Linked DNA regions of Homo sapiens: region 1 is linked to region 2. The links come from fine-mapping of genetic effects on gene expression. Tissue or cell type: whole blood. Region 2 holds a variant in brackets; the other region holds the start of a gene. All regions are shown on one strand. Distances are between the middles of the regions.

The links. PIP is the estimated chance that this variant, and not a neighbour inherited with it, causes the effect.
Region 1: MEST starts here. The variant in region 2 is fine-mapped to the expression of MEST in whole blood (INTERVAL, PIP above 0.99).

Annotation. Positions count from the first base shown.
Region 1 is chr7:130,489,079-130,494,197 of GRCh38, reverse strand. It overlaps MEST (mesoderm specific transcript), which reads right to left and starts at 2,113. Exons shown (of 12, transcript NM_002402.4): 1 at 1,859-2,113. The coding sequence starts at 1,884. It overlaps MESTIT1 (MEST intronic transcript 1, antisense RNA), which reads left to right and starts at 3,221. Exons shown (of 2, transcript NR_004382.2): 1 at 3,221-3,356; 2 at 4,231-5,119. RefSeq lists a silencer at 3,076-3,285.
Region 2 is chr7:130,432,548-130,437,754 of GRCh38, reverse strand. The region is part of intron 1 of CEP41 (centrosomal protein 41); the gene reads left to right. Among named protein-coding and RNA genes, the nearest start is that of CEP41, 5.9 kb to the left of the region's middle. The variant G/A (reference allele first, on the strand shown) is at 2,273.

The DNA of each region.
Region 1 (5,119 bases), 56 kb before region 2:
CGCTAACTTCCTCAACTTACAAGATACTTTTCCCCCCCATATCCCTGATACTTTTTGCTAAAATCTAAAAACAAGCCTGTGGTTTTACAGTGGTAAAATAACCATGTTTCTTAAACAATGTCAGCTCCCCAGGCTATTTTTTAGGCATTATTAGGGCAGTCATTTCTTTTTTTCTCCAAAGTACCTGTCCATAAGACGGATAGAACCATTTGGTCCTACTTCTCAAGGTAATACTAGAAATGGTTCAAAAAAGTGCCAGAACATGATGGTTATATCACAGTTTTCACCCAACAATAGCAGGCTGTATCCCAGTATCTCCTTGAAAGGTCAGATGACAAAAACCATTAGGTTTTGACGATCATTTGCCCAGCCCTATCTGTCCTGTACTTCAATGTATACATTTTCATGTGCAGATTTCATTACTCCTTTCCCCCAGTGCTTCTCATCGCATTCATCCCCGGGGTTCCAGCAGCTGAATCTCTGCAGTGACTCAGCAGAGAGCCCCGGGAGGGGCGGCCAGAGCGGCAAATGGGGAGGCTTCCCCGCCGCTGCTCAGGGAAAGTGGGGGGTTAAAAAACGAGGCTATCGACCAACATACTCCACTCCTGGACACCCCCCTCCACACCCTCCTCCTCTTACTCCAAGAAAGCAAAGAGGCAACCTCTCAGGGGGCCATTTTTTGTCTTATTACCTCAGTAAAAATGCCCCCATGAACTTTTAGGATTTTTAGAAGTGAAGCAACCTAGCCGTCAGTAGGCAAAATGGGTTAAGCAAACATTTTTTGGCCAAAATCCCAACTATTTGATGAGCCATGAGCGGAGACAATAAGCAAACTCCAGTAACAAACTTTCCAAAAATTTCTGAGCCTTGATTTCTTCATCTTGTAAACAGAAAAACACACTCCCGTAATAATACCACCCAACCTGCCGCCCACCTGATGGCGTCGCCGCGAGACGAACCACTTTGAAAACCCGCGAAACCAAGGTGAACAATCCCTGCGCAACATGACAGTTTGGTCACATCGCCGTTCTCACTCGCGCTTGTTACTGAAATCTGAAAAATACTTAAGGCGGCTGACGGGCACTGCGAGTTCTAGTCACTGCGGTGACTCCCGCCACCGTGATACCTGGGTCTTGAAATCCTAAGCTGCACCGCGGCGATCTCGGCACTGCGATTATCCCGTTCTTGAAATCCTAAGGTGCGCCACGGAGACACCGGGGTTCTAAAAATCCTACATCGCACCAGGGCGATGCTGGGGCCTATCCTTTAAGTCGCACCAGAGCGATGCTGGGGTTCTAAAAATCCTACATCGCACCAGGGCTTTGCCGGGATCTATAAATCCTAAATCGCGCCACGGCAACGGCGGAGTCTAAGAATCCTGAATCGCACCAGAGGGAAGCCGGAGTCTAAATATCCTAAATCAAACCAGGGCGATGCTGGGGGTTAGAAATCCTAAATCATGCTGCAGCAATGACTGAGTATAAAAATCCTAAATCGCACCAGGGTGATGCCAGGATCTAAAAATCCCAATTCGCATCAGGGTGAGACCAGGGTCATTATGGATCCTAAGTCATATCAAGATGACGCTGGGGTCCAGAAATCCTAAATCTCACCACGACGATCCCGGGGTCTAGAAATCCTAACCCAAGGAGGTCCCGCGTTCTGAACATTCCATTGCGGGCAGGAGTGACACCCCCTCCTCAAGTAGGCAGAGCGGGCGCGGAATGCGTGCCGCCTGTCGGTAGAGTTTTCGCCCAGAGGCAGCCCCAGCTCGGACACGGGCACACAGTCCTCCGCTCGCCTGCGCCCTAGTCCCAGGGCCGCCAGCCACACCCCCTCGTTCCCACCGCACACTCACCTGCGGAGGCGATCTCGGCGCACCATGGCCGCGTTATCCCATGCCGCCCGCCGCAGCGTTGCAGAGCACCGGGCGCCGCAGAGCCCGCAGCCGTGCAGAGCTGGCCAGCAGCGGGGGCGCAGCCCGCAGCCCACAGCCCGCGCAGGGCGGCGCCGCGCCGGGCAGCTACAGCCACTCCGGCGTGCGCTGCGGCACTGCGCTTGCGAGGCGCAGCTGCCGCAGAGGAGGTGCCGGGGTGTGCTGGTTGCCGCGGCAGCGCGGAGCGAGTGGGCACCGACTTTTAGAGCCCACCCGCGCCCCGCCCCTAGCCCGCCCATCGCCGCAGAACCCCTACCGCCTGCTCCCTTGCTCGCCGCAGAGCCCCTCCCAGCCGCTCTACCACCGCCATGGCCACAAAGATGGGGTGCCCCTCTAACAGTGGCTCCTTTAGGGGGCACCTTCAGGGGTGTCGAGCCCCCTCCCCAAGACCCCGCTGCTCCCTCGTTAACCGCCAACCCTGAGCCCGAGATTCTGCTGCAGAAACCCTCCCCTGATGAGTTAAGGCCACGGGCAAAAACAGCAGACCCCTGAGTGCCCCAACTCTTTCCTTAGACCACCCACAAACCCCACAGGCCGCCCACAAACCCCACAGGCTGCCCACAAGCCCCACAGGAGGATGGCCGCTCGAACTAAGGGGCAGCAGGGCTCTGGGGTGCCGGCCGTGGCGCCTGCTCCCATCCCTCGTTCGAAGCGTGGGTACTGAACCGTGAGAGGTGGCGAGCCACGAGGGCCCTATGCGCCCTAAGCTTAACTACCGGTAACCACCAAGGGCACGAGCAAGCGGCTAGGGAGCAACAAGCTCTGTTGGACCCACCACCAAGCTAGTAAACAGATTCATGGGATGGCCACTATGGCCAAAGTTGCACAAAGTCCGGTTTCTCCCGCTCCAGCCACCGCCGCTGCGCGGGGCAGGTTTCCTTTACAGCAGCGCGACGTGGTCAGCATGCCAGACGCCTGGCCACAGCAGCGCCCTCGCAGCCCCGCTCGCTGCATGCGCCGGTCCGCGCTGCACAGAACAGTGGGCACAATTAGGAGAGCAAAGCCCCCTTTATTTACGTAAGATAGAATCACAATGCAAGGGCCCAGAGGCACAAGAAAGAGGGAGGAATTTTTCTAATCCATAATCCTTTAAAAGGCATCCCTTACGCCTTTGAAAAGTGTAGAGTATCACGAAGTGTCTGTGTTCATTTTCTGACCGTAAACTGAAATACTGGTGAACAAACGTGGGGTGCGAGCGGGTGAGCGGGGCGGCCGGCCGGTGCCCGCTGCATCCAGAGGGGGCGCTGCAGGCCTCCCTTCGGCTGCGCACGGCCCGGGCCCTCCGCGGCTCTGCAACTCTGCACCCCGAAAGGTTCGGTGCTGGACCGCGGGGCATCCAACCCGGGACCGGGGGCGACCCACGGACACTGAGGAAACTACCGCCTATAAGCCTATCATCAGAACCTCTGGCACAACACAGGTACACTTCTGCAGGGGTCTGGTTGCCCCCAGAAAAAGCACTCATGAAACAAATGCTGATTTAGCACCTACAGGGCACTAAGAACCGGGGGTGCGAAATAAATGAGAAATAGCCCCGGCCCGAAAACAACACACGGGCCATCTGGAGGGGAAGACAGACAAGAACTGCCACTTTGTAAAATTTTCCTTTTAATTTCCTAGCGACGTTTGTGGCAGTTGACCCACTCCTCCCTAACGTGTAAGGCCCTCAGAGGCAGAGCCCAAGTATTATTCACCTTTTGTAGCCCCAGAGCCCGCCACGGTGCCGGCCACAAAGCTGGCCCCTAATAAATACTGCTTGAATGAGTACAAGAATTTGAGGGCGCACAGGGGAGGAAGTAATTAAGGGGAGGGGCGAAGGGTGGTCTTGAATGATGAATAGACATTTACCAGAGAGACAAAGAACATTCCAGCCGGAGGGGACGGCTTTCGCAAAGCACCGGAGGCTCAGGGCCGCGTGTTTGGGGAAAACGGTTAGTCCTTTGAGCCGGCAAAAAATTAGGATAGCAAGAGAATTTCATCGTAGGGAATTAGGAATTTGTTCTAGAGAAAATGAGAAGCCACAGATGGATTTAAACTCTTTATGGCCTTAATTGGTTACTTAACAAAATTTAAATTAGTCTCTTTACAAGTCAAAGATTACCTATTTTAACTACCACTACCTTTTAAAGACTGAATTACTCTGCAAAATCTAAATCGGTTCTTCCAAAAAGGTAAAGGCTTTCCTATTTTAATAATAACAATAACAAAAGCCTTTGCATTATATATTTTTCATATTTATTGTTAATGGAAACTTTGAGTCCTACAAACAAATTCCACACTTTCATTCTCACCAGGCCAGAAACACCAGCATCCAAGATGAAGGCAATTTTCTGTTTATGGACTGAGTACCCCACAAAAGATCTTATTCTGAAGGCCATGGAACATGTCTACCCACATGGATCAAGTGGGCAGACTGGAGGAGAAACAGTTTAAAGGCCCTGGGGGAAGGAGGGAGCGCCAGGGAGAGCTCCTGAAGACAACAGGAATTCCAAGTCTGGCACTCGGGAGAAATCCTCCCTTCAGACATTATTGATGTCTGGCCGAGGAGTTAGGAAAAACTTCCTTGAAGGAGGGATTGAGGTTGAGATGGGCATGGAACCCAGATCTTAGGCAGAGAAAGCATATTCCTGTTTGGAAGAACCCTGAGTACAGAAGTCAGCTCAAAGATATCAGCTTGGCCCAACCAGGAATTCGCTGTGGGAAGTCTAAGAGAGAAAATGCTGGCCATAATCCCCCAGGAGCCAAAGAGTTAACGAATCTTCTAAATGTGCCTGATTTACTTCCAGAAAGGAGCTTCCTCCGCAGGGGGAGAATTTGACCCAAGGTATAAAACACTTGGAGCCCTGAGAAAACACACAGCCACACATAAATTCAAAGTCGGCTCTGGCTTGCTCGAAGTTGCACCCTTTCAGTTCCTCTGGACAGATGCTATCCTGGACTGTGCAGGATATCTCATGCAGTAGTACTCCCTCAGCCAGTGGCTTATCACACATTCTTGTCACATTCCAAGTCTAACACAGTTCCGCCTCATGATAAGACCTCAGATCTGTGCAAAAATTCATGTAGAAAGCTCTGCATTTATTATCTCGCTGATTCACAACAGTGGTATGGGATCAGCAGAGATGGTACCACAGATTCAAGAACCATATTTTTCTAACCCCAGTTTGAGACCCATAATATGAC
Region 2 (5,207 bases):
TGCTTTGTCACCCAGGCTGGAGTGCAGTGGTACAAACATGGCTCACTATATCCTTGACCTCCTGGGCTCAAATGATTCTCCCACTTCCTGAGTAGCTGGGACCACAGGTGTGTGTCATCGTGCCCAGCTCATTTTTTTGTATTTTTTATAGAGATGGGGTCTCCCTATGTTGCCCAAGAGGGTCTTGAACTCCTGGGCTCAAGCAATCCTGCCTTGGGCTCCCAAAGTGCTAGGATTACAGGTGTGAGCCACCACACCTGGCCATCATCAGCATCTTGCAAAACATTGCTTAGTGGTCTAGTGTCTTGTGTTGTTGTGAAGTCCAAAGCCATTCTCTTGCTTTGTGACTGAATTTTCCTCTCAGGAAGCTTGTGGAACCTTTTTTTTTTGTCCCCAGTGTGACTTTACAAAGATATTTATATTTTCACTCATTTTGATAGGCACCAGAAATTTATGTCTTTTTAGTCTGAAAATTTTCTTAACTTTCTCTCTCCTATTTTCTCCATCCTCTTTTTCTTGAATTCATTATTCTGATGTTCTGTATTCATATAGATAACCTATATGACTGGTTCTCTGATTTTCGTAACTTTCATCTCCTGTTTCCCTCATCTTTGTCTTTCTGCTCCCTTTGGGAGATTTAATTTTTATCTTCCAATCCTTCATTTTAGTTTTTAATTTCTGCCATCATGTTTTTAATTTGTTTGTTTGTTTGTTTTGAGATAAACTCTCACTCTGTTGCCCAGGCTGGAGTGCAGTGGTGCGATTTCGGCTCACTACAACCTCCGCCTCCCAGGTTCAAGCGATTCTCCTGCCTCAGCTTCCCAAGTAGCTGGGATTACAGGCACCTGCCACCACGCCCAGCTAATTTTTTTGTATTTTTAGTAGAGACGGGGTTTTACCATGTTGGTCAGGCTGGTCTTGAACTCCTGACTTCAAGCCATCCACCTGCTGCCTTGGCCTTCCAAAGTGATGGGATTACAGGTGTGAGCCACTGTGCCCAGCCCATGTTTTTAATTTTTAAGAGCTCTGTTTTTTGCTCTGTTGTACTTTTAAAAAACGTTTTATTTCAAAATAAGTATAGATTCACAGGAAGTTGCAAAAAAAAAAAAAATAGTACAAAGAAGTCCTATGTATCCTTCACCCATTTTCCCCAATGATTATATTTTACATGAGTACAGTACAGTATCAAACTAGAAAATAGAAATTTGCACAATGTATGTATAGTTCTAGGCCATTTTATCACTTGTATAGATTTAATCAAGATTTACATATATGTAGATTTGCAATCAAGATAAAGAACTATTGCATCACTAGAAATATCTCCAAGCTACTCTTCTGGTCACACCTACTTTCTTCCCTCTCATCATCCTAACCCTGGGTAACCATCTCCATAATTTTGTCATTTTGACAATTTTACATAAATGGAATCATACAGTATGTGACCTTTTGAGATTGGCTTTTTTTTTTTTCACTCAAGATAATGTCCTTGAGTCGCATACAAGTTGTTGCATGTAGCAGTAGTTCATTCTTTCTGGTACCTGATCAGTATTCTGTGGTATGAATGTACAGCAGTTTTTTTGTTTTGTTTTGTTTTGTTTTTTGAGACGGAGTCTCACTCTATCACCCAGGCTGGAGTGCAGCGGCACCATCTCAGCTCACTGCAACCTCTGCTGCCTGGGTTCAAGTGATTCTCCTGCCTCAGCCTCCTGAGTAGCTGGGATTACAGCTTCCTACCACTGTGCCCGGCCAATTTTTTGTATTTTTAGTAGAGACAACATTTCACCATCTTGGCCAGGCTGGTCTTGAACTCCTGACCTAATGATCCACCAGCCTCGGCCTCCCAAAGTGCTGGGATTACAAGCGTGAGCTACTGTGCCTGGCCTGTACAGCAGTTTTTTAACCATTCAACTAGTATAGGACATTTTGGTTGTCATCAGTTTTGGGCTATTACAAATAAAGATGACATTTGGGTATAACTCTTTGTGTGGATGTTAATTTTCATTTATCTGGGATAAACGCCCAGGAGTACAATTGCTGGGTTGTATGGTAAACATATGTTTAGTTTTATTAGATACTGCCAAACTTTTCCAGAGAGGCTGTACCATTTTACATTCCTGCCAAGGGTGTATGAGAGATTCAGTTTTTGCATACTCTTGGCAACGTTCAACACTGTCAATATTTTTTATTTTAATGTTTATAATAGATGTGTAGTGCCATCTCATTGTGGTTTTAAGTTGCATTTCCTTAATGGATACCAAGCACATCTTTTCAT[G/A]TGCTTATCTGTCATCCATATATCCTCTTCAGTAAAATATCTCTTTGTGTCTTTTGCCTATTTTCTATTTTTCTTAACTGTTGAGTTTTTGTTTCCTTTTGTGTTGTTGGTGATGACTGTAAATATTATTGCAAAACAAGGAAATGTAGGATTACATTTCCTTTCTTACTGCTTTTTGTTTTTTCCTGGAGTTTCTGTTTCCTTTATTTTTAATTCTATACTTTTAATGAATAATTCAGGACATTTTCTTATATCACTATGTACTATGTTTTCATAGTTATCTTTTCCAAACCTTCTCTGTACATTTGAACATGTGTGTGATTGGGGGATGGAGAGAAATATAAGAGTTTTATTTTGTAGTTTTGTTTTACATAAATGTTACAACATTGTATATATAGTTCTTTGACTTGATTTTTTTCACTTAACAATATATCCTGGAGATCTTTCCATGTCAGAAAAATATACCTCAGTGTAATGACTTCCTTTTAACTCTTACCTAAGTATTTGGTGTGGTTGTATCACAGTTTTGTTTATTTGTTTTTTTGTTTTGCTAGTTCTGTAAGACCTCAGTTGTACAAATGGACTGATATGATTTGATTATCTGTATACTTCAGTTATAGCCAATTTTGGTTCTTATTGCTTTTATTCCCACTCTTCTCCTTTGACTATAGACATCTGCTCCCATATATTTAATGTATATCTTTCTAATTCAGCAGCCATATTTTTCATATAAAACAGACATTATTTTGTGAGCTTAAAAATTTTACAAAAATAGTGTTATGCTATTTGTATACGATTTGCTTTTATCATGCAAATTATGCTTCAGATCCATCTATGTTGATAAATATGTCCAGTTTATTACTTTACCTATTGTATAGTAATCTAGCATGTGACTAGAGCACATTTTACCTATCAGTTTCCCCATGGTCATTTAGGTTGTTTTTGACTACCTGCAGTTACAAACACTGATGCAATGAATAGTTTTACTTTTGAGTTTTGAGAGCTCTTTATATATTTGAGATAGTAGTCCTTTGTCAGATATGTGCTTTGCAAATATTTCCTCCCAGTCTGTAGCTTATCTTTTCATCTTCTTCACAGGGTCTTTTGTAGAGCAAAAAGCAATTTTAAAAAAAATATATTTACTTTTTACATTTTTTTTCTGTAAGAGCTTTTTTGAGATGTAATTCACATAGCATATGTAATATTGGTTACAGTGGTTGTGGGGAATGAGATAATGTAGGTAAAATGCTTAGTGCCTGATGATATAGTAAGTACTCAATAAATGTTAGCAGCATTACCATGTTTCTTATTGTTGTTAAATCATCTCCGGCAAATAGAACAATTTGTTCTTTAAACTTGCTTTTAAAGTGGCTTTGCTATTAAAAATTTCTCCACTTGGAATACTTTTTCCATTCCTTCTTCCCATCTTTTTTATCCACAGAAGATCAACCCTTAAAACATAGCTCCAGTGTCCATTCTTCCATGAAGTCTTTCTTATCACCCCCAGTGGATGAACAATCTCCTTTGACATTCCTCCCTAGAGCCCTCCATGTCCGTGCTGCCCACGTGGCACCAGCATGCACACTACATGTTGCTCAGGTCTTCATTTGGCAGGTACTTGTTGCTCTCTCATTAGTAGAGGGTCTTGTAGTAGGTACAGAGATCTACAAGATAGAGCCCCTGTCCCAAGTGCAGGAGTAAGACGTGTGAATGGTACAAAGAACTGTGAATATTCAGTCAAGGAAGAGATTTCCATTTGACTAAGGCCTTCAGAGGAATCTTCCCAGAAGATAAGTTTGCCCTGAGTCTTGGAAGTCACGTAGAATTGAAATAGCTGGGCTGTGGTGGGTAGACAGGGAGGACATTTTCTTTTATGTAAACCCTCAAAGGGTCTTTGACATTTTTGGTTGTTTTCAAAGAGCCTGTAATGATACCACAAACAGGAACTTTCTCAACTTCCTGCCTCTTCCAGATGAACTTCATTCTGACCACCTACCTATCTTATATCTTTATCTTAAATAGATCCAAAATTGACCCTGCTGTCTGGGCTCTGGACCTCATCCTCTCCCACTCTCTCCATACCATTTTCAACCTCTCTTATCTTGCCCATTAGCCTGTATATACATCCTCAAATCTCTCCTTTTTTTTTTTTTCAAAACAAAATAACAGCAACAAAGATTATTCCTTAGCAACTCTCTTAAGGGAAAAAGAAAAGATCATCCAGCTACTGTCCTCTTTCCTCCTTCGCCTCTCATATACTTGATCTGCTGTTTTTTGCATCTGCCGCATCAGTTTCCCATAGCTGCTTCCACCAGGGCCGTCAACAATGTCCTGGTGTGCTAAATTCAAATTCACTTTTCTCTTGGTCTCTTACTTGAACAGCATTCTTGTTCACTTGTTCATACTTGACCTCTTGTTCTCTGACTTGACAGCATTGTTCACTGTTGGCCACTCCCTTCTTCCTGATTTAATTTTCATGACCCACTTTTGTATGGCCTCTTCTGAGTTTCATCCCAGGTGCCTCTCCTCCACCTGACCTTAAATGTTGGGGTTTTTCAGTCTGCACTCTCCTCAGCATGATTTTGTTCATTTCCATGGCTTCCTCTGCTGCCTGTAGGCTGACAACTCCCAAATCTTGTTTTTTTCTAGCCCAGGTCTCTCTCCTGATTTCTAGATGCAAGTAGCCAACTAGGTACTTCCATTTCGTTTTTTGGGTTTTTTTTTAGTGAGAGTGTCACTCTGTCACACAGGCTGGATTGCAATGGCAGGAACATTGCTCACTGCAGCCTTGACCTGGGCTCAAGGGATCTTCCCACCCCAGCCTCTCGAGCAGCTGGGACCACAGGCACATGCCACCATGCCCAGCTAATTTTTTTTTTTTTTTTTTTTTTTTTGTGGAAACAAAGTTTCCCTGTGTTGCCCAGGCTGGTCTTGA